Linked DNA regions of Homo sapiens: regions 1 and 3 are each linked to region 2. Evidence: fine-mapped expression QTL. A gene starts in region 2. Each other region holds a variant in brackets. All regions are shown on one strand. Distances are between the middles of the regions. Region 1 overlaps PCOLCE2 (procollagen C-endopeptidase enhancer 2). Region 2 holds the start of PCOLCE2 (procollagen C-endopeptidase enhancer 2). Region 3 overlaps PCOLCE2 (procollagen C-endopeptidase enhancer 2).

Region 1 (8,184 bases), 38 kb before region 2:
GATTCTCCTACCTCAGCCTCCCAAGTAGCTGGGACAACAGGTGTGTGCCACCACACCCAGATAATTTTTGTATTTTTTGTAGAGATGGGGTTTCACCATTTTGCCCAGGCTGGTCTTGAATTTCTGAGCTCAAGAGATCCACCTGCCCTTGGTCCCCCAGTGTTGGGATTACAGGCATGAGCCACCATGCCTGGGCTCCACTTTTATTTTTTAAAAGCTATTGTATAAGTACTCAAATAAAAGCAAGCACACATAGAAAGGTATGGGAACCACTGGCCATGGCTATTTCTGGAGAATGGACTATGGAGTGGTGAAGGGGTGTGTTTGCATATTTGCATGTGTGCTTATGTATGTAAGCTCCACATTTTTACTCTATGAATTTCTATACTTGATTTACAAGAATGCATGTGGACTTAAATTAAAAGGCTGATTTTTTGTATTGGTCTCATCATGGTTTGATGGCATTCACTAGCTCTTTGAGAACCACTCTTAAGCTTTAAAGGAGTAAATAAACATCAAGTGCCAAGAACAGTGAACCAACATTACTGTTGTTATTGCCATTATGTGGAAACAGTACCTCTTTCGTTTGGTTCAGCAGCGGAGAACATGGCCATGAAGCCATTGCCAGCTGTGTTGGCATCAGAAATCATCTGCACCATCATCTTGTTGCCACTGGACACAAGGGCTCCAGGCCGGAAAGTGCCACAGAAGCGGCCAATGCGCTGGCCATTGGCATGGCCATTGTACACATCCACAAAGTCATAGCGGCACAGGTTGTCACTCTCGAGGTCTATGAATCGGAAATTGAGAACGACTACTTTTCCTTCGGGAACCTGCCAAGAAAAGCGCCAATTAGAAAACTGTCATGAAAACAATATCTGAGGCTTTGACATCTAGTCACTTACTTAAGTGTGTAAAGTATAATATCCAAGATAATGCTTTTTCCTCTCTCATATCTGAACTAACCCAAGGGAAGTTTTCTAGCATATTGCATTCCTAAAAAATTTAAGTACTTATTTTCTTTTGACAAATTCTGCAATTCTCCAGGATTCACAATCTTATTCCTTAAGAACTTACCTCAACAAAGCTGCAAAATATTAGGTCAGTATTATTAATAGATGAGTCATTGCTTAGAATGAATACCAGTCCTGATTGGACCTTAGCATATATTTGCATATTCTAATACCTAGAGATATTGCTTAGCAAAGAAACATTTAAAAATATCATTTCTTGGCCAGGCACAGTGGCTCACATCTGTAATCCCAGCACTTTGGGAGGCCGAGGTGGGCGGATCACAAGGTCAGGAGATCGAGACCATCCTGGCTAACACAGTGAAACCCCGTCTCTACTAAAAATACAAAAGATTAGCCGGGTGTGGTGGGGGGCGCCTGTAGTCCCAGCTACTCGGGAGGCTGAGGCAGGAGAATGGCGTGAACCCGGGAGGCGGAGCTTGCAGTGAGCCGAGATCGCGCCACTGCACTCCAGCCTGGGTGACAGAGCGAGACTCCACCTCAAAAAAAAAAAAATCATTTCTTACAAATAATACAGTAGGACGCATTCAATGCCTGTGTATAGAATGTTTCTATGAAGTTCAAAATAGAGGATTTATTTGGCAATTGTGTAGTTAATTTACAGATAATTCATTTTGGGTCCTGAAACATCCAGATGAACTACCGATACTGACTAAATGAACTGAGTAATTGCTGAATCATCTCTTCTGAATGTCACTAAGTTTTTTGCTCATTTGTTTTCCAGGTGAAGACTTTATATGTCAGGAAGCCTTGAGACACAATGCGCTAATGAAGAAAAAGATAAGCTTTCATTTTATCATAATATTTTATTCATCATAATTTCCCCATAAAATTCTTAATGATGGTTCCTTCCTTATTCCCTGAGTAGGTAGAAAAAATGGCTATAAAAGCATTTGGTAGGATTCTCAGGTTACCAAAGCCCCATTTCTTTCCCAGTTCATACCACCTTTTAATTTCTTCATTCAAGTTGTTCAGTCATAAAGTCTTGATCATAATTGTTTTACTCCTTTAATCAGATGAGGTCTCCACTGAATAGTGGAGAATTCCATTCTGTAAAAACTTACATATAACAAAACTCAGTGATTAAAAAAATCAAACACACACAATCAAAAGTGGTTGGTTTATATTCATCTTAATTAACTATTTCAGACTCAAGGGTCAATAGATGCTTTGACATTAATACGGCTTCCCCATGTTGGTAAGTACAGTGCCATACGTTTTATTTTCCTATGGTAAGATGAAGTGTTTTCAGTGCTATTTGCTTTTTGTGTCAAACACATCTACACTTCATCGTAGAAATTATAATGGCGTAGTTCCCAAAAGGGACATGTTTGGATTTGCCATCGTTGCATTCTAATTCCTAGAAGCTTGTCTCAGTGGTGTGAATATCAGAGTTCCAAAGAACTTAGAACAGCTTAAGAAGCTAATAACAGAAAGAACAATTTAAATTTTAAACATTATCACCAAGATGTCTGTTGTAAAACTTCCTGTCTTTTGCTTTGTTTTTTGTTTTGCACACAACCTCTATTTGTACAATAATCAGAAAGTTATCAAAATATGATGCCACATCTGTAATCTTAAATATAAGCAGGCTCTCTATGAATCACCGAAAAAGTCCTAGCCATGAAAAGAATCTCAAACTAATTTGTTTTTTTCCTGCATGAATAGTGACTATTTGTATAAATGTATAGAGGGTAATTCAAAGCTACGAAACTTGATGAAGTCACTCCCAGAGTGAATGTGGATAGAAAAAGGAAGAGGTCTAAGTATAGAGGCCTGGAACACTCCAATGTCATCAAGTCTGTGAAGAGGTCAAACCACAATAGAGACTGAGTCAACAAGTAGGAGGCAACCAAAGTGTGTGGCGTCTGGAAGCCAGGCGAAGAGAGTATGTCAAGGAGGAATGAATGGGCAACTGAGTTAAGTGCTGCTGCTGAGAAAGACCAGTGGATTTAGCAACACAGAAGTTTAGCAACCAGAAGTCACTGGTAATGCTGACAAAGCTGTTCTGGTGGCACCATGGGGAGAAAACTGGATAAAAGGATCATGAGAAAATGGGGTGAGAGGAAATGGTGACAATAAATATAAACAAGCTTTTCAAGGAGTTTTGCTGTGAAGATGAACAGAATAATATGGGGGTAAGGAAGGGGATATGGGGTCTAAGCAGAGTTTTTGCAATGGGTGTTTCCTAAGGCATGTTTGCATGCTGATGGGAAGGATTCTGTAGAGAGGGCAAAACTGATGAAGCAAGAGAGAGGGAGGATTGCTTAACAGATGTCCTTGAGCAGGCAAA[G/A]GGGGATCTGATCTACAGAAGGAACAGCTGGTGGAGTTGGCCTTAGTAGGAGCAGGGACAGTTTTGCCCAATGACAGAAGGGAAGACAGATGTAGGTAGGTCAGTAAATGAGGTGGTGAAAGCATATATAGAATTTTTTTTCTGGATTGCTTTTCTTAGTAAAATAGAAAACAAGGTCATCAGCAGCAAATGTGGAAGAGAGAGGCACTACTGGGAATCTGATAACAGAAGAGAAAGTGAGGAAATGGATTAATGAAATGCAGCAGGAGTACCAGGACTGCTGGGGTCCACTTGAAGTAAATGAATTAAAATTAAGACCTCTCTGCATGGTGGCGATATTTGTTTTTGTTTGTTCGTGGTCTTCTTCCCCAGCCACATTCAGCTCCGTGGGCAAAGGTACAGGGCAGGTGGAGAGTTGGATATAAGCAGTAGGGGAGAGTGGTGAGGTTTGCCAAGGGAGGATATGGCAGGAGAGAAGGACAAGAGAGTTGAAGACATAGGCAAGGGAGTGACCATGATGATGTGCTGTGGAATCCAAACTGGGTTAGGATGGAAATCAGGACGCTGTGGGGTGAGGACAGTAACAACCAAGACTGTGGTGGAGTAAGGACAAAATAACAGTGGAAGTGGGAGGCTGAGGAACTATGGAGGATAAGTTATTTGGCGGAGAAGAGGTTAAAGACCTGAGAAGATCACCCATATAGATATTGAAATTACAGTTGATTAGGACAAGGAAGAGTGTTGAAGACAGTGACAGTGAACCAGGAGTTAAAATTTGCAAGAAGCGAGGAAGACTGTCCAGGAGGCTTTTAGATTATTTCATCAAGGAGAGGAATAGGGAGGTATAATCATGTTTCATTGGCAGGTTCTTGGTTCTCTGACACTACGTAGACAATTCTGTTGACTCTCTCCTGTAGAGAGGTGTTGAAATTAACTACAGGACTTGGATGCTCATTCCCAATAAAATAAATCATTTGTTCCCAAAAGTTTTGTACCTGTTCCCATGGCAATGAAAATTTGAGAATGAGACACAAATATGATCAGCAATAGAAACTGGGTTACATCATTGCAATTTTGAACACATGCTGACCCGAACAACCCCGACAAAGCTTCTTTTGAAAGAAGGATGCAGAGGTGATCTGTACCAGTGTAAGTCTCCTATAACCAGAGACAAATGTCATCTTGCACTGAAGGCCAGAGAGAAATTCTATTGCAAATGAGAAGCATACTGCTGTGAGCCTTTTCAGTATGACACAACATCCGTTCTTCATTTTTTATATGAGTGATCAAGATTGTCTGATGCCCTCTGATGCAAGCTTTGATAAGAGCTCCTGATTGTCATTATAAAGGACTTTAGAGAGCATATTCTCCGAAGATGGCCTTTCCACTTGGAGAATCTAGTCTGTATCCTTGAATTTTCTTTGTTAAGAATAGAAAAAAAATAAAAAAATAAAAAATACAGAAAGATACACAGAATAATATAACACCTGGATACCAACCACGAAATTGACTTTTGTTAACATTTTGTTAATAGATTTTTAAAGTCTCCTTTAATGAAGTAAATAAAACATTTCAGATAAAAATGAGATTTCCTTTGTCTTCATCCCAGGCCCCATTTCCTCCTCCTTCCTCAGAAGCAACCACTGTTACAAATTTAGTGGGTTTCCTTCCATGCTGATCAAAATGTGTGTGTGTGTGTGTGTGTGTGTGTATTTATATATATTTATGTATGTGTGTATATACATATACACACATAAGTATTTATGTATATGTGTATATAATATATATTTTAATATATATTATATATATGTAACCATGCAAAATGCACAGTGACTTTTTGTGTTGTTTTAAAAATTAACAAAAATGGTGCCAGGCTCATGCTTGTAATCTTAATACTTTGGGAGGCCGAGGCAGGAGGATTGCTTGAGTCCAGGAGTTAAAGACCAGCCTGGGCAACATAGGGAGATCGTGTCTCTACAAAAAATTTTAAAAATTAGCTGGATGTGGTGGTGCATGCCTGTAGTCCCAGCTACTTAGGAGGCTGACGTGTGAGGATTACTTGAGCCTGGGACATCAAAGCTCCAATGAGCCATGATCACACTGTACTCTAGCCTGGAGAATAGAGAGAGACCCTGTTTAAAAAAAAAAAAAAAAGGGAAAATGGGATAATGTTTACATATCACTCCACAACCTGGGCATCCTTGAATTTTCTGGCTGAGGAAGAAGAGAAGAAGGAAAAATAAAAATACATAGGACCTTCACAAGCTATTCCTTCTACCTGGAACATGTTCCCACTTCTGCCCTTCTCTCACTCATGCTTAGGGTCTCAGTTTCAAGGTCACTCCCTCCTGGAGACATGCCTAAACACCCCCAAACCCGAAGGTGGGCTCTGTCCAATTAGCAGTGCTCCCCTCAGGTCTGTGAGCATGGGATGGCTCAGCCCACTCACTGCATGTTATAAAGCTCAACCTCGAGGGGGCAAGGATCCTTCCTGCCTTGTTCACTGTTGCATCCCCAGGATCTGGCATGGCCCCAAGTTAAAGCTTAACATCAAAAATATTTGTTAAATGAATAATCCATTAGGTACTCAATGAATCACCGGCCTCCTTGCACAAATCACAGACAATATACCTACTGCTGGCTCCACCTTTTTCATTCTAATATTTCCTACCTTGCCTGGCAGCAGAGCTCCAAAAGGCCACTCTCTTTTCTAAGCCATTCTTTGCAAAAAGCAGATGCATATCTTTTTGGAAACTTTATATTTCAAATCTCCTGTAAATGCTAACACTTAATGCAGAAACTCAAGGTGCTTTTTTGGTGGCAAATAGATGAAGCTACTGTTTTGTGAGATTATATTGATTTGGGGATTCATTATCTGCCTGCAGAAAAACAATTCGACGTTTGTGTTTTTTCCTATCAACAGCAAAGTCCCGTGTGGGCCAAAGCGTAGAGCTTCCACAGTGACCTCAACTCACCCCACAGCTCCTGGGATGTCCTCACTGTCACAAGCAAACGTGCCAAAGCTCTCGATGCCGGGGCTCCTGCCAGAGGACAGAGGAACTGCATTTTAAGCTGATGGTTTGCATTTTTAGGATACTATGAGCAAAATGCAAACAGGAGGCCAGCTTCTTCTGTGTGGAGGAGTGCATTTCTGCAGAAATGGGAATGCTCCTTTGTGTCTGCAGCTTTTCCTCCCTAAACACATCATTTACTACTTTGATCAAAAAGAACTGTTTTTGCAGCACGTGATTTTTTTTTAAGCCATCATTCTAATCTTCTACGATTTCCCTCTTCCACAAACAAACCTTTGGGAACGTGCATTCTAAAATGCAGACCACAGTTGATCTACGTAAAGCTCGAGGCACAGTTGATCTACGTAAAGCTCGAGGTGACCACTCAGTGTCACCTCTCCCATGGACCTCCAAAGGTAGTCCAGAAAGATCTATAGACAAATTATGTAAAAATATTTGGCAGTCTTTCTAGAGGGGGATAAATCAGAAGCTTACAAGATCTTATTCATCTATATTCTGGGTATATTTCAATACTACTCTTGTAAAGGTAAATCTTATACATGTTTAAAAAATAAAACATATTTTGATTGTAGAAATAACGAGATGTTTTGAACATTTTCTTTTGTTTTTGGGGATTTCACTAAAAAAACTTTACCCCTGGATGTCTAGAAGGGGCGTGGAAACTCCCATCCACCTTGGGCCCAGCCTGAAGACACCAGTGGAGATAACCCCCGAAAACCACCCAAAACTTTCCCACTGCACTTAGAATAAAATCTTCACCTTAATTATAGTTCACACACTTAGTGAACATCAGGTGCCAGGTATTTTTCTATGCACTATATACGTATCATTTCATTTAATCCCTTACAGCAACCCTATGAAGTTGATATTATTATTGGCCCAACTTTATAGTTTACAGATGAAGAAACTGAGGCACAGAGAGGTTAAGACACTGCATGATATATCCCCTTATCTCTCATCTTTCTCCTTCAAGCAACAACTTGGCTGTCATGCCACTTTTCTGTTCAAGGAGCCCTCCGAGCTGGTTCCCACCTAAGGGCCTTTGCACAGCCTGGTCCTCTGCCTGGCACAGCCTTCTCCCTGATATACACGGGTCTCACTCCACCTCATCATCTAGGTCAGCTCAAGAGTCACTGTTTCAGAGAAGCCTATCCTGAGCACCCCTGGTCACTTAGATCACACAGCCCTCTTATTTCTTCACAGATTATTTATCATCTGTCTCACTATCAGAATGTAAGCTACAGAGAACAGTTGGTCTGTGGGTCTACAGTTTGTCCAATGCTTTGGCTACTATGAGTACTCAGAAAATATTCATTGAATAAATGACTGCGATCCTTATAATCTTAAAATAATAGTGCAGGCCATGACTCCTATTACTAGCACATACTTTTATATAAAAATGTAAACTCACAAGTACAGGGCAAGTATTATTAAGATCCTTACGGGGAGGAAGAAATGGCTGACAGCGGTTATGATGACTTGCCTAAGGCCACCCAGAAAGACAATGGCAGAACTCAGGTCACCAGACTTCCACCTTGCTGTGTTTTTCCATGACCTGACTGTGGCAGAGGCTGAGGAGATGCTCCCAAACCTTGTTTCTTCTCAGGTCACACATGGAGTCGACATTTCCCAGCCTCTCTTGCAGTTAAGTTGGGGCCATGAGTCTGGGTCCTGGTCAATGGAATGTAGATGAAAGTGATGCACCCATTACCTCCAGGCCTAGCCATAAGACACCCAGTGCAATCCTTTTGGAGTTCTCTTTTTGCTCTAAGGAGGGGATTCAGTAGAAGAAAAGTGGAGGTGTTGGAAGACAGCAGAGCCACACAGG
Region 2 (8,184 bases):
TTGTCTACTCCACCATCTTCCCTCTCCTGGATACCACAACAGCTTCCTAATTGGTCTCTCTGCCTCTACTCTTAACTCCCTACAGTTCATCTTCCACGCAGACACCAGATAAGCTCATTCCTCTGCTTAAGATCTTCCAGTGACTCCTACTCAAAACAAAATTCAAACTCTCCACCGTGGCCTACAGAGTCCTGTTTACCTTCTTCGCTTCTCTTCCCACTGTCCCCTTGCTCATTCCATTCCAGCCACTCCAACCTCCTTAATTTGTTCTTCAGACAAATCAAGCTTCTTCCCACTCAGGCACTGAGTTGAAGCATTTTACACTATCTCATTTTGTCTTCACAGTAATCCTAAGGTTTAAAGGAGGTAGATCCTGGACACACAGTTTATGGCGGTGAAACTGGAATTTGAATCCAGGGAAGTGACTGCTGAGCTCACAGGCTTTCCCTTCACAGGACATCCAGATGGAGCATCCATTTAACTTCCCCACTCCCACACAGGAAATCATGCCTCTCCTGAGGCAAACCGTTCCTTTATCAAGGAAAGCTTTCACTGGACGTGCCCCCCAACCCCAGTCAAAGTGTAAAGTCACATCAACCTGTCCGCAATACTCAGAACACATGGCCAACCATGAATTTCTACTTGGGCACATGACGCCTCTGAGCCATTGATTTTCTAGGGTCGTTTAAAACTTATGGCCATTTAATTACATTTAAAACACAATCACGACATGAAAATCAAGCTGCTTTTATTTTTGTTTCAGAGACTTATTTGACATTTATGTTAATAGTATTTCAAACTTATTTTCTATGACTTCTTTCCTGGCCACATGTGCTATAATAACATAATGAAATCTGTACCAGTTTGTGACATGGTTGGCATTTTACAAGAGGCCGTCAAGGCATGTAAGAGCTGAGTTTTATATTATGGAAGGGGACCTCTCATATCTGCCTGCAAAATGACCTCAGTGGGAATACCTTATTGCAAAGTAGGTTTTACTTTTACATAAAGTTGGGCTTCCCGACTGTCTGATCAAGTCAATTTCTATAATTGTTTCAGGCCTCAGCTTCCCCATCTATAAAATAGGGATGATAATAGATACTTTCTCATACAGTTGTTTTGAGGATTCTGGGTGATTATACTTGCTAACTACTTGGCATGGTAAATGCCTGGCACACAGTAACTGCTAGTTTACACATTCAGTGGGGGCTACTTTTTAAAAAATCTAAGTCCTCCAGTGGCACAATCTGACTGAAAGAAGCTCTCAGTGAACCAACGTATTCAATTACTAAACAACTTCCCAACAACGAAAAAGTGAAGAAGGTAACAGTCAATGCTATGCTGACTGGAAAGATGACTCACTCTAGTTGACTCTAAATCAGTTAAAAAATATATGGCTGTCTCTAAATCCAGCTTATCTTGACTCAGCATAATCTATGTTATTACTAATCAGCATGGACTTTTTATTGGCCCTTGGCTGCTATTTAGATTCCCACCCCCCCATTCTCTATTCTTAGACTGCCTTTAGAGGTGGTTTCAACCCAGGAACATTAAGTGGGCTTTTTTTATTTTTTTTCTTTTTCCTTTCCTAATGAGCATAGAGTAGTCAAAGCACTATCTTTGATCTTCCATTTCCCACTGGGAATTTATGAAGGCACGAGCAACAAAAAACTTATGAAGGTCATTACAACAGGCCTTTGACTGAAAACAGCTTTAATTATGAATCTATAAAACTCAACTGAGTCACACTGGGCTTTCAGAAACACATCTGCTCTGAGAATTTATTCCTTCAAGCATTATCTTGTGCCCTTTGTAATCACTAATGCAGGACACGACTAGATCTATTATATTAATAAAAATCTTCCCAATAGTTGGGGTAAATCCAACATTTCACTATTTCAGGCATTTGCCTCTTACTCAAATCCTAACACCAGAGGAAAAAGGCAGCAGCCTCACACTGTTGCCAACACCCACTTCCAGGAGAATACCTTTTTAAAAAATGCTTACTGTGATTTTCCAAGTACATTTGCTATTTGGAGGGTACACTCCAGGAAAACCTTCACTGCCAATAAATCCAGACTCTCCAGTAAGAATGCCACCACATGTGAAAACAGGTCTGGGAACATAAAAGAAGAAAAGATAATGTAATTTGAAACATGGTCTAACAATCTGATGTTACCTTCAGAAAGGTGTAGCCTATTAATATAAATAAAAGTTAATGTTGATTAATCAATGCTTGCACCATATAAGGGATCTGAAAATTTGCTAGCTCCTAGAATATTTAAATTATAGCCTGACAAAGCATTCAGTCCAGCGCCATCTGTCTCCATCATAATAACACAAGATTATATATATGTATAATCAAGTCCTCGGCATTGTGGCAAAGTCTTGTAGGAAAATGGTAAATACATCAATTTAACTGGGGGAGTGGGAGAGAAGGTAAGAGCCAGGCTGAATGAGAAGCATGGTTTTAAAGAAAGACAGGCAAGCAATTGGTTAATATAAAAAAAGTTTGTCGTTCCCATATTTGGAGAGATGCCCAGTTCTCCTCCCCCTTTCTGAAAATCACTCGCCATTGGCAGAGCTTCCCATCGAAAGGGAGGCTGATGTTGATGGAGGCTGAAGAGGTGATGCCAAAGTTGGCCACCGGGCAGGTCCCACAGCCCAGCTCCTGGGGCCTTCCAGAGGTTGGCGAAGAGTTAACTTTCCGGAGCGGCTCCCTAGGCGCCGCGCCGCTAGGGTTGTTCCCTAGTTTACGTCTCTGGGCAAAGCCTCTCGGGGAAGGAAAAAAAACAGCGGTAAACCAAAATCCACATATTTGGGCCCCAGTGCTTCCCTCTGGCCCCATAGACACGAGGAGAGGGGAGACACAAGTCAGATTAAGCCCCGCCACGTGGTGGCCAAGCCAGCTGCAGGGCCATCCGGCAGGCCGGGCTGGGGACCCAGGAGGGAGCCCCGCGAGCAAGGATGGGTCCCGAAGTCCCGGGCTTAGCCTACCCGAGGGTGGCGGACGCCTGCACCGCGCGGGAGCGCAGGGTCGAGCGCTGGGTCACCCAGGCGCGCCGAAGCGGGTTGAGTAAAGCAGCAGGCGAGGCTGCAGGGGTGGAGGAAGGGAAAGGAGAGAAAGGGAGCCCGGGCAGGGGTCGCGTTACCTCTCTGGGGACTGCTGCCGCGAGAGCTGGGTGGCGGCAGCCAGCAGCAGGCAGAGTGGCGCCCAGGCGTTCGCGCCCCTCATGGCAGCGTAGACGCTCGGGGTTTGCACCCCACGGCGCGCGCGCCGGCACACACGCCCCTCCGCACCCACCGCGCTCACACCGCCGCTCACACTGGCAGCAGCGCTGGCTCACACCGGCGCTCGGCTGCCCGCGCGCTCCCTCTCACGCGCGCACCGCCGCGGGGCGGCCCAGGTAGCCGGGGGATACGCGGCCGGCAGGGCGGAGGCACTTTTAAAGGCGATTATGGTGCCGTCTGACTCGACGCTTAGTTTCCCCTGAGGAGCTGCTCTGGCAGCCACAGGCCACTGCTGAATATCCCGTTTGTTCTCCGGCGGCAGGAGGGGCGGCTCCGAGGCCAGAGCCGCCCCCTCTCGTGGGGCGGGCGAACGTCTCCTCCCGGCACCCCGGGACCGACGGGTCCTCTCTCGTCCAGCCCTCAGGGACCCCGGGGAGAAGAGGAACCCCTTGCGGAGTGGCACCCCAGCGGCCCGGGCCCCGACGCCCAGAGACGATTCTCAGGGAGGGCTTCTGGTTTTGCTTTGGGGAATGTTTTTCCCAGTTGCTTTTAAATAAAAAGTAATAGCGCTTGCTGGCTGCTGGAAAGCCTGGGGGTCCTTCTTTGTCTCCTTCAAAACCCAGATCCAAGGAAAGAAAGGGAAAAGGGATTTTATTGTATTTTAACTTCTGTGCTTATTCTCCTCTCTCTCTCTCTAGATACTTTTCTTTTTTTTACTGGTATGACAATGACAAGGAAGACAGTCTCTGTGCCGGGATTTAAACACGGGTTTTCAGGCGAGCGATTTCTGTGTGAACTGTCATTAAATGTCAGATAATGAAGACGGAACCAAATCAGCAAATCTCACCATCCCATGTCATGTTCTGAAAATGGTGTTTCTCTGCTTGCATCTCTCTGTTCTTAGACCTTTCCAACAGCATCTTTCTGTGGTATTAACGGGTTAAAATTTACGGAGAATTCGTTTTTCTTAGACGAACAATTCTAGCCTTGTGGAATCAATACTCTCTTTTACTTAATTACAGAAATATAATTTTAAACATTTATTTTGTTAAGAGCTTCCCAATAACCAGGGATTAATAAAAGAATGACAGGAACAGACTAGATTCATAGAGATTTTTAATAATCACCAGCTATGGGAGATACAGCTTAACTTTGATGCCTCACGTTGTTCCTTCTAAATTGTTTTCACCTTTCTAAGCAAGAAAATTAAGTATTAAAGTAGTTCTTATCGAGACTTTATTTCTAATAATGAGCTGTTAAGAATCTAAACACGGGTGGGCGCGATGGCCCACGCCTGTAATCCCAGCACTTTTGGAGGCCGAGGCGGGCGGATCACGAGGTCAGGAGTTCGAAACCAGTCTGGCCAAGATGGTGAAACCCCGCCTCGACTAAAAATACAAAAAATTAGCCAGGTGTTGCGGTGTGCGTCTGTAATCCCGGGTACTCGGGAAGCTGAGGCAGAAGTATCGCGTGAACCCGGGAGGCGGAGGTTGCAGTGAGCCGAGATCACGCCATTGCACTCCAGCCCCGGGCGACAGAGTGAGACTCCATCTCAAAAAAGAAAAAAAAAAAAAAAAGAACCTAAACACTCCTGGCAAGGAAGTAAGTAAAACTGGCTACAGGAAATATTCTGACTTTTCATAGTGAGTGCACCCTGAAGCCTATACTAGGAACCAGAATATACGGACAGGACTTAGATTATCTTACCATTTTTTTAAAAAGTGAAGGCAAAAACATCATAAAGTACAACTTTCAAAACTTCTCTACAGGCACCACACCCTTTATGACATTAAAAAAAAGGGTGACAGAATTTGGCAAACTGCTTTATATCCTGAAACACTCTCAACCCAATAAAAATGTCTTTAAAACAGGGAAGAGGAGAATAAATGGTTGTTGATTTTGCACGCATTTCAAGAATATGCTATCTAATAGCATAAGTGTTTTTAGATAATTGTTTATTTGAAAGTCATAGTTTTAAATTATAAAGGGAAATATTGCTCAATTCACTTTCTGGTAATGATTTGCAGTCCTCGTAAACCAGAAAATACTTCATTCAGGACTAAGCTAAGTTTTCAAAATTTAAAATAAATAACAAAGTATTAAATGTGCCTAAATAGGAAACTATTTGAACTAAAATACACAGCCATTTCTTAATTTATAGATTGATGACTGTGTTCATATGCTCACTAAAGAGTTAGGATTTTAACACCAATCATTCTGTTGTTGACACTCATAAGACATTGATTTTACCATGTGATTTTAGAATTTACTAAAACCCATATTATTGGCTCTTAAAAACACATATTTGACTTGGAACTACAGTTCTGACCAAAATTATAAACCTTAAATGTCCTGAGAAGTTGATGTGTTAAAATTGAGAGACTTTTATTAGTTTGTTCTCACGCCGCTATGAAGAAATACCCGAGACTGGGTAATTTATAAAGAAAAGAAGTTTAATTGACTCACAGTTTCACATGGCTGGGGAGTCCTCAGGAAACTTATAATCATGGCAGAAGGCACCTCCTCACAGGGTGATAGGAGAAGGGGAAAAGCCCCTTACAAAACCATCAGCTCTCATGAGCATTCACTCACCACCAGGAGAACAGCATGGGGGAAACCATTCCCACGATTCAATTACCTCCACCTGGTCCCACCCTTGACACCTGGGGATTATTACAATTCAAGGTGAGATTTGGGTGGAGACACAGCCAAACCATATCAAGACTCAAGTGCACTTTGAAGGTATATGTAAGGTCCATCTCTGTGAGACCAGTTTCTGGACTTGTGTGATAACAGAATTAGTATAATGGACAAGGAGCTACCCCCACAGGCAGTAGAAAAGTGGAGAGAGAAAAAGAACAAAAGCCCTGTGGGTAGATTCTTTAAAACAAAAAGTGGAGTGGTGGGTGAACTGATCCTTATTATCCAGCCTCTGCTGTTACCAGGTTGCACAGAGAATCAGCATCATGGGAATATGAAAATATTCACCAATGAACTGACCACTTATAAAATTAGGCCCCACTCAAACATTCCTTGCTACACAATGCTAGTATCTAGCTGGGCCCAATATGTCAACATTGTCAGCTAATCTCTGATTCACTCATCAACCTTGTAAACGTCTGAAAATGTCGTGTAAATCCATTGCACATTTATTCCATAGTGCGGTACTCATCTTGTAAAAAATCCGGAATGTTCATAAGTTAGTTCACACTGGGCACGGTGGCTCAGGCCTGTAATCCCAGCACTTTGGGAGGCAGAGGTGGGCAGGTCACTTGAGCCCAGGAGTTCAAGATCAACCTGGCCAACATGGTGAAACCTTGTCTCTACCAAAAATACAAACGTTAATTGGGCGTGGTGATGGGCGCCTGTAATCCCAGCTACTCGGGAGGCTGAGACACAAGAATCGCTTGAACCCAGGAGGCAGAGGTTGCAGCGAGCCGAGATCACGGCACTGCACTCCACCCTGGGCGACAGAGTGGGATTCCATCTAAAAAAAAAAAAAATTCAGTGTTTTTTGATGTCTGTAAACACACATTAGGAACAAACGTAGACCTTCCTCTTTCCCCTGCCCCACCTCAACACACCTCTCTGCCAAGAATAAGATATTAGGAATTGTACTGGTCAGGTTTCTTAGCTACAAACAACTGAGTCCACTCAGAATTTCAAGCAGAGCAGAAAGTTCACATTATCATCAAAAGAATCATAGAAACAGTCTCAAAGCTCATTTTCCTGGAATAAGAGCCAAAACCTCGCCTCAGAAATGGCCAGTGAGAAATCTACTGCTATTATTGCCACCAAGACTAAGCACTAAATGCAGGTACTTGAACTTAATGCAGTCACCGCTGTTGTGAGCACTTCAGATACATTTCTGCCCTGGGAAATTCAACCTTACCACACTCCTGCCCCAAAGGCCAGACAGCCTATTGCCTCCTACAGAATAAGAGAATCACAGAACCTCTTTGCTCACGGTGATCTCTTGATCAAACTCTCATGCAAGCCTATATGATTGGTAGTGTCCATGTCACATGACTTGCAGTGTCTCAGCCACAAGGGAGGCTGGGAATTCAGCACTATTAGAAGATGAGGTTACATAATATAGAAATATCTCCAAATATTAAAAGGCTACTAAAACAAAATGGGCAGGCACAAGTGTGATTAATGTCCATGATAAGGATCTACAAAGTTCAATTAGCCTGTCTCCTTGCATCCCTTTGCTGAGGAAAGCAGCCCCAAGGAGGTCTTGATATATGAAGTTGCAGAGTTAATAGGATGTGTTGAATGAAACCAGTTCCACTCACCTGTCCACCTTGGACTGGGTCAGGCATTTTGTTTGAGTCAAAGGCAAGCACATGAAAGCGGGCCAAGCTGAACACAAGGAAATCAGCTGCTGCTTCTTGGTGTGGAATGAAACTTTGTTTAGTGGAGTCTCTCCATAATGAATCGTCATTATCATCATCATCTCAGACTTTTACTGAGCATTTATTATACACCTGGAACTGTGCTAAGTGCTTTACAAACAATATTTTGTATAATTCTCTAAACAAACTTACGGGGTAAGAACAAGTATCATCATTTTACAGGTGAAGATTCTGAGATTTATAATCCAAAATTTTTTTTTCTTTTAAGACAGGATCTTGCTCTATCGCCCAGGCTGGAGTGCACTGGTGTGATCATGGCTCGCTGCAGCTGGGACCTCCTGGGCTCAAGCAATCCTCCCACCTCAGCCTCCTGAGTAGCTGGGACTACAGGCATGTGCCACCATACCAGACTAATTTTTTTTTTCTTGAGAGGAAGTCTCACTCTGTCACCCAGGCTGGAGTGCAATGGCACAATCTCAGCTCACTGCAACCTCCGCCTCCCAGGTTCAAATGATTCTCCTGCCTCAGCCTCCCGAGTAGCTGGGATTACAGGCACCTGCCACCACGCCCAGCTAATTTTTGAATTTTCAGTAGA
Region 3 (8,184 bases), 72 kb before region 2:
CCAATCTTAGTATTAGAATGCTACAGGGACATCATTCAGGCAAAGATGTTTCATTTATATCTAATCAAATTTTAGCCTTTTAAACTCAATTGTTGATTTTGTTTTTAAAAGGGAGAAGCAAATGACAAAAAAATCAAAACCAGGATTTTTAATAATAACTTTAGAATACTTCAGAACAAATTTTTATGTATATCCCAGAGCTACTCACCCAGAACACCCGATTCCATGCATCCATGGGCAATCCCACACTTGTACATCCAGAGAGCCTTTGTCAAAAAGAGGCTATTCGTGGCCCAGTGCTGTGGCTCACGCCTATAATCCCAGCACTTTGGGAGGCCAAGGCAGATGGATCACCTGAGATCAGGAGTTCAAGATCAGCCTGAACAACATGGCAAAACCCCATCTCTACTAAAAATACAAAAATTAGCTTTTCTTAATTTGGTCAGAGTTTTGTCAATTATATTAGTCATTTTAAAGAACCAACATTTGGCTTTCCTTTTTTCTATTATTTAAGATGACAATTTTATTCAATTTCTGCTCTATGCTATTTTATCCTACCTTTTAAAAGTTTATGGTGTTTTCCTTTTACTAAGTTCCCAATTTGTATCATTCACAAATTAATAATTTCCATCCTTTCTTTTATAATGTAAACATGTAAGATTATAAATTTTAAAGTGTTATTTAAGCTGCATTTCACACATTTTAAAATGCAGTTTTTCTATTGTTCAGTTTTTAATATTTTGTTTTCCATTATGGTTTCCTTTTTATCATGAGTTGAAAGTACATTTCTTAATTTCCAATTTTTTTCTTGTTTTTTGTTGTTTACTTTTTGTTATTAATTTCTAGTCATTTACTGTTAGAGAAGGCTGTTCGATACCAGTTGTTTGAAATTTGTTGGAATTTGCTTCATGGTGCATGGCAAGTTCTGAAATTGTTCCATACGAGCTCAAAATAATGTGCCCTTGGTTCTGTTCTACATATGTGTGTTAGGTAAATCTAGCTAATTGTGCGGTTCAACACTTCTATATTTTTAATGTTTTCTCTTTTAAATCTGTCAATACTGAGAGAAACATGTTAAAACCTCCCCTTATGATGGTAAACTTGTCCATTTCTATTTATACTATATCAGATTTAGTTATATATTTTGAAGGATGTTATTAGCTGTGTGCAAATTTAGAATTGTTATATCTCCTTGTAACTCTCTTCATCTTGAGTAATGCCTTGAAGTATTTTTTTTCTGGTATTAATAAAACCATACCATTTTTATTTTGGTTAATGTTTGCCTGGTATACTGTATTTATCTTTTTCTATCCCTTTCCTCTCAACTTTTCCGTGTCCTCATGTTTTAGATGTCTCTTTCAAATAGCACATAGCTGTATTTCTTTTTCTAAGCCAGTCTGACCATTTTGACGTATAACTTTCAGGACTTAGTTTAGGTGTTTACTGAAATTATTGATATGTTTGTATTTTTACCTTATTTTGTTGTATTTTTCCTGGTTTCACTTTCTTTAATTTCTTCTTTTTTTTCCTCTGCTGGTTTTAAATGTTGATGCTCTATTTATATTATTTATGCTCTATTTATATTATTATTTTATTATATTACCCTAGAAAAATTAATGTAAATACTTAAATTATCAAAGTCCTAAGTTAATATTTTTATCTTTCTCTCTCTCAATACGAGGTCTTTAGAATACTTAGGTCAAATCTTTTTAAAAAACATTTGCTTGCTAATTGAATTTAATTGCAAATTTTTTGTTTCCATTTATATAAAAAATATAAATTTGTTTGCTTGAATCCATGAACTCAAGCAAAAGGTGTTTCTGATTAATATTACTTAACTCACGTTAGAACTTTCTCATTAGTGCCTGTTTAATTACAGGGCTTTTCTTTAAGGGAGTTTTTTTTGTCATTAGTTGATACCATTTAAATAGTCCAGAAGTAAATGGGAGCCTGGTAGCAGTAGTCTATTAATACATGAAAGAAAAGAAGGTAAATGTCTTCCAATTAAGGTTAACTTGGAAGTAAATTACAGAATTTAAGACTTGGGAACTTGGGAAAAATCTTAAATGTTCATTTACAGGAATTCAAAGGATGAAAATCAAGCTAGCAAGATGCTCTGAAACAGTGAGATTTATTTATAATTTTGAAATGTTTTGTGATATGTTAGTATGGTCACCTATTCATTCTTCATGTGTATTTGATTCCCCAAGTATAAATACTTAAAAACAAAAACAAAACCTTATCAACTATTCTTGAAAAATAAACAATTCCTAAAAGAGAAAATAGTATGGGATCCCAGAAGTTATGTAGTCTAACTCCCTCAAATTATAACTAAGGAAACTAAACCTCAGTCAAAATAAAGGTGTCTTAGTCCGTTCTGTGCTGCTATAACAGAATATCTGAGACTGGGTAATTCATAAAGAACAGATATTTATTTCTTACAGTTCTGGAGGCTGGGAAGTCCAAAGTCAAGGGCCCACATCTGGTGACGGCCTTCTCACAGCATCATCCCATGGCAGAAGGTGGAAACGCAAGAGAGCACATGAACACATCAACACATGTGCATGCCCAAAAGAGAAAGACAAGGATGGAGTGGGGACGCAGGGGGCCAAATTCATCCTTTTACCAAGGACCCATTCTCACGATAACTCACTCACTCCCATGATAATGGCATTAATCCATTCGTGAGGGCTCTGCCTCATAAAAGAGCCCACCTCTCAACACTGTTGCATTGAGGATTTACTTTCCAACACATAATTTGGAGGATACAGTCAAACCATAGAAAAATGATTGTTTAAAAAGGAAAGAAATTACAAAGTGGTTGTTATTCCAGAAAGAGCAGCTTCACGATTCATCTTATCTCTATGTTTTGAATAACTGAAGTAAAAGACAAACCAGTGCCACACACTTTTAACCGTGAATCCCCTAAGCAGTTGTAAAATACTGTGTCAGAGATGTCAATAGTATGAATAGTTTAGATTACTCTTCTCAGTTTTTACCCCACTGTGACTCAAGCCCCCACTCACCTGAAGAAGTCTTTCCGCTGGTCATGCAGAAGCTTGATACCCGCCAGCATGCTGCTTGTAATTCACCAATAGGAGATTCTATTCAGAAAGAAGAAATACTGAAATCTTTAGGATTCCCTCCTAAGTCCCGGAACATGTATTCTTAAAGGGAAGCAACTTGCTTTGAGAAGGCTGGAATCAATGAGGAGTCCACAGTTACATCCTGTGCTGGGCGCAGCTGGTCTGCGAAGTTCAGCTGGCTAAGAGAACTTTCTAAAAGCTGACACTGGCCAGGGAAGCCAGTCACCCACTGTCATCAGGGTCTTCTAGTTCATCTACTTCCTGCTGACGGCTCCTCAGTGGGAAAGTATAGGAGCAGTTTCTGACCTGCCTGTCAGCCCAATTTTGTCGTTTCCTTAGGCTCACCCAGCTGCCGTAACAGAGGGAACAGAGTTCCTTCTGAACTTCTATTTTGCCACCCTTTAAATGTCTGGTCATCCTAGGGCTGGGAATTATTGTTTTCATCTAAAAGAGTATTTTCCCTTATTTCCAAAACTTTGCTTCTACCGTGGAAGAGTTTGTGACCCACGTCTTTGTTCATCCCTAATGTTCTTTCAGCCTTCTTTGGATAGGGATGGTTATCCGCTCTCCCACAGCCCCTGGCTGGTAACCTCCTACAGGGCTGGTTGCTGCACTCATATAGTTGTGCCTTAAGCAGCTCTATGTGAATGAAGGTCCTTTTGCTGTTCTTCCACTAATGAGTGAAAATAGATTTCTCAAAGGCTCTTAGCTGATACAGCCTGATCCAGTTAACTGGGGATAAACAGGGCAGCAGTGTCAAGCTCACTTCTAATTTCAAGTTCTGTAAAATGACCAATTATATAGGCTAGTAAATACTAGCCTAAGTACTAATATTTAGTACTTCACTCTTCAAATCAGGATAAGAGGGCTTTCCTCTGGGGGTAGGGAAGGCTCTTCTAGTGGCAGTGAGGGCAAAGGGTTTGGAATTAGGACTCTTTAGCTTGATTGTTTTGTCTCTTAGGAGACATGTGCTCTGGCAAGTCACTAAACATACCTGAGCTTCCGTTTCAATTACAAAATGAAACAGTGTGGACTAGATCCCTGAGAGATGTTATTCTAGCACTAACATTCTCTGTTTCTGCAGAGAGAAGAATTATAGTCTATTGACATTACTGGATCCATTTAGTCCCTGAAATTCTTGGAATGCTCTTTTAGCAAAGTGTAAATTGATACAAAGGCAATCTTATGCATAAATCACACTATTCTTATTGCTAAAAGGGAATATTCCTTCTACAATGTCCCACTATCTATAAAAAGAAGTTTAGTGGTTGTTCTGTAATCCTTTAAAAATATTTTATTAAGCATTGATTTAGAAAACGCAAGACAAGATTGTAACACCTCAGGGCAAAGGCTTGAAGGTGAAACAAATAACACTATAAATATTGCACTTCTAAAATCTTTTTTTGACATCTTCACACAACTCAATTCTAAAATATCCTTTTACAGAGATGTATAAATAAACGCTTCCAAGCTGTCAACGCTTGACACTTTTAGCTTCCTATCACCGCACTAAGTCGGCAGGTTTCCAATCAGATAGCTGCTCCTCTGACAGCAGGCAAAGAACTTCCCTCAGCTATCTCGGAGGCCTCATACCTCCATCATGTGAAGAGTCAACCAGTCCCATCTTTCGGAAT[C/G]CTCTTTCAGAATATGTAATTTTATAAGTATTTTTTTTTCTACTGAGAGAACATAGATCTTTCAAAGGCAATGGCAGAATACAGCTTAAATGGACACAGTTCACTGTTAACATTGCTTATTTTTTAAGGCATCCAGGAGCTTCTGATTCTTGGTCTTGAACATCATGATAAAGCTGTTTGGCATGATTTTGCCTCGCCCATCTTCACCTACTTGGCCCATAATAATGTAATTTAGACCTAAAGAAAGAGAATACAGAAATTAATCTTTTTCTCTATGTATCATGTGTGAAACAACTTAGACTGTAAGTTACCTCTAGATAAATGTTCTCTTCTGCAAATGGTAAGATTATACATGTATTCCATCCACGATAAAATCTGGGTTTCTTGTTTTTGCTTTTTAGAGATGGGGGTCTTGCCATGTTCCCCAGGCTGGTCTTAAACTACTGAACTTAAGCGATTCTCCTGCCTCAGACTCCAAAGTAGCTGGGACTACAGGCACACGCCATTGTGCCTGGATGATAAAATCTGTTTTAAGACTCTCATCGGCAAAAAGCCAAATTCAACTAGTAAGGTATTTCAGCTACGCTAACACCAGGAAGCTGGACTGAGTGGTTAGATCAGCCATGTCCCGCTCTGCAGTGCTGTAGGTCTGTTGTGGTTTCAAATGCCTGCTATGAAGAATGCACCGCGTTAACGTGAAAGACTCTCCTTCCTCGAGGGGCCTCCAGGGCTCCATGATGGGCCATCCTCAGATGGCTTCTCAGTCCCATCATGTGTCTGGATTTTCCTGGCATTTGGCAACCAATGATCCACTCTCTTATGTTGCTGTTGTCTTGAACTTTAATCAACATCTCAAACATGTATGCTACGCAAGCTTCTTGAGGGCATAGATGGATCATATACTACTTGCATTTGTACAGTTTCTTGCAAAACATCGGTGTCAAGAGTACTTATATTGGTTATACTATGTTTTTATACATTGGTGTGACTGGCTAAGTTAGGCCTAGACTGGGGCCTGAGGTGTTGGGTAACTCTGAATATTTATATTACCTCAGAAATAAATCAGAAAAAAAGGTATGGGTTAATTCCTCCTTTAGTTCCCCTTTCCCCTGGTGTGTCATAGAGAAAATGTGTCCTTTTTCTCTTGCATTTTCCTGTGTGGGTGGACCTTGTCATCACAGTGGTCTGTGAGAGCCTGAGAGTCTGGGCAGGTAATGCTGCCTCAAGGCTGAAGTGCTAGCAGCATTATGAGACCTTATAGAATCTTGAGGTGCAGTATCTGCTGCTCCTGGCAGTTCTGGAAAGAAATGTTTCTCTTTTACAGAGCCTTTGTGATTCTCTCCAGAGACTCAACATGAGGCTACTAGCCTCCTGACTTTTCTGAACAATCTGAATTCACAGTAAAGCTTGCTTTATTTTTAAATTTTTTTCTTTTTTTAGACAGTCTTGCTCTGCCACCCAGGCTGGAGTGCAGCAGTGTGATCATGACTCACTGCAGACTCGACCTCTTAGGTTCAAGGCATCCTCTTGCTTCAGCCTCACGAGTAGCTGGGACCACAGGTGCGCACCACCACACCCGGCTAAATTTTTTTATTTTTAGTAGAGCAGAGGTCTCACTATGTTGCCCAGGCTGGTCTCGAACTCAGGCTGAAGCAATCCTCCCATCTCAGCCTCCTAAAGTGCTGGGACAGTAAAGCTTTCTTGAAGTGGATATTCTGTATCTTTCTCTCTCTTTCTCTCTCTCTCTCTCTGTGTGTATGTGTGGAAAGATGTTAGAGCTTATGTAGGGGAAAAATTGCAGAACTTGTGTGTGATATGATTCCATAAGTGTATATGCCCATGCTTTATGTGGATAGAAACTTTCTGGAAGGAACTTAAATTTTTTTTTTTTTTATAGAAATAGGGTCTCACTACATCACCCAGCCTGATCTCGAACTTCTGGGCTCAAGCAATCCTCCCACCTCGGCCTCCCAAAGTGCTGGGATTACAGGCATGAGCTACTGTGTCTGGCTGGAAGGAACTTTTTAGAGTACTTCTAAGGAAAGGAAAAGGGTTTCACTTTTAAACATACTCTTACCTACTTATTTCAACTTTTTAAAAACCATGAAACATATGTTACTTTTATAAGTTGTTAAATACATATTCTTAAAAAGTCATGTGCCTCTAGCTCTGGAGTAACTTTCCGTTTTTCGTAATTTCTTTCAATAAACTCACTCCCATCCATGGACTTAATAGTCCTATCTCTGCAAATGATTCCCAGATCTTGATTCTAGCCCGGATATACCTCCCTCTTCTGAACTTCGGGTCTGCATTTCCTGTTGGCTGCTGGATATTTTTCTTTAAACCTAGACAGTACTGGCATCTTAAGTGCAATAGTCTAAAATCTCTCCACCCTGCACTGCTCTGTGTGTCTGTTGCCTATTGACTCAACTTCAAACGCTTCTTTCACTTGTTCATCATGTCCACTACCCCTTCTTCTGCCACAAGTTACAAGGACTTGGATGAGAGCCCAATTCTGCCTGACTCCAAAGGCCTTCCTGCTCTGCAAGAAGTGGGCAACATATTAGCCCTGATTTTACTTCCCTAGACCAACCATGGCATGGAAAATCCATGGCTTGCTCAGAGACACCCAGTTTTCTCCCTACTCACCTCTTCTGAGGAGAGGGCACTGCTTGCAGACGACAGTCAGCCTGGCACTCATGTTCTTGCCCGCCTGCTGAATCGCCAAATTTCCCTCTTTGTAGATGTTGATGATCGAGACTGTGGCGTGCAAACTCCCATCGCGAGTGATGGTTGTGATAACAGTGCCGGCTAATACTGCAGAAGAAAACATTTTGAAGTGATGTGACAGTGAAGGCAAATGCAAGCAGAACTGAAAAACAAGTTTACATTCTTCTAAGTTTCAGATACGAAACATTTTAATGTTAAAGAAAAGGCCCTCATAGAGGTTTCACATTTGCTTCTGTACATTTGTCACCAAAATTCAGGTTGGAGCTGTGATGTTACGCTGGTTGTTGGGGATTGATAACTAGAAGAGAAGCCTAAATACTTGCCACACTGCGGTCCATTGCCAAGGTTGAAACTCTTTAAAACGTTTTATCCAACTTGTGGCTTGATTGTCACATAGGGGATAGTCTGGCTTATGAGGCTCTACCTGTGAATACTCAAAAAGATCTTGTATCTTTAGAGGCAGTACCACGCTAAAAGATTGCGCGATGGGGGTTTGGGCCACTAAGATGTGAGTCTTTGTGTCGGTGTGGGTGTGTAGCCACCTTTCTGTGTCTCTCCTCACCCTTCTCTGTAGCTGTCCTTTCTTCCTGAACTTTTGTTCATTCCCTGGGTCCTCACCTCTGTCTAATTATCAGGAAAGCTCTGTCTTCTACGGTCTTTCATATTCTCTTTCTTATCCACTCCGTTTATTTCATTTAACAAGCTGAAGTATAGAACTGAGGTATTAACTTAAA

Evidence for each region. PIP is the estimated chance that this variant, and not a neighbour inherited with it, causes the effect.
Region 1: its variant is fine-mapped to the expression of PCOLCE2 in whole blood (TOPMed, PIP above 0.99). The same link has a PIP of 0.9 or more in monocytes.
Region 3: its variant is fine-mapped to the expression of PCOLCE2 in left ventricle (GTEx, PIP 0.96).

Annotation. Positions count from the first base shown.
Region 1 is chr3:142,847,640-142,855,823 of GRCh38, forward strand. PCOLCE2 (procollagen C-endopeptidase enhancer 2) reads right to left here. Exons shown (of 9, transcript NM_013363.4): 3 at 578-833. Among named protein-coding and RNA genes, the nearest start is that of PCOLCE2, 37 kb to the right of the region's middle. The variant G/A (reference allele first, on the strand shown) is at 3,325.
Region 2 is chr3:142,885,662-142,893,845 of GRCh38, forward strand. It overlaps PCOLCE2 (procollagen C-endopeptidase enhancer 2), which reads right to left and starts at 3,422. Exons shown (of 9, transcript NM_013363.4): 1 at 3,153-3,422; 2 at 2,008-2,116. The coding sequence starts at 3,235. It overlaps LOC124909443 (a long non-coding RNA gene), which reads left to right and starts at 2,603. Exons shown (of 2, transcript XR_007096122.1): 1 at 2,603-2,798; 2 at 3,930-5,106. RefSeq lists a silencer at 3,365-3,414.
Region 3 is chr3:142,813,509-142,821,692 of GRCh38, forward strand. PCOLCE2 (procollagen C-endopeptidase enhancer 2) reads right to left here. Exons shown (of 9, transcript NM_013363.4): 8 at 7,370-7,537; 9 at 4,366-4,957. The coding sequence ends at 4,827. Among named protein-coding and RNA genes, the nearest start is that of PCOLCE2, 71 kb to the right of the region's middle. The variant C/G (reference allele first, on the strand shown) is at 4,721.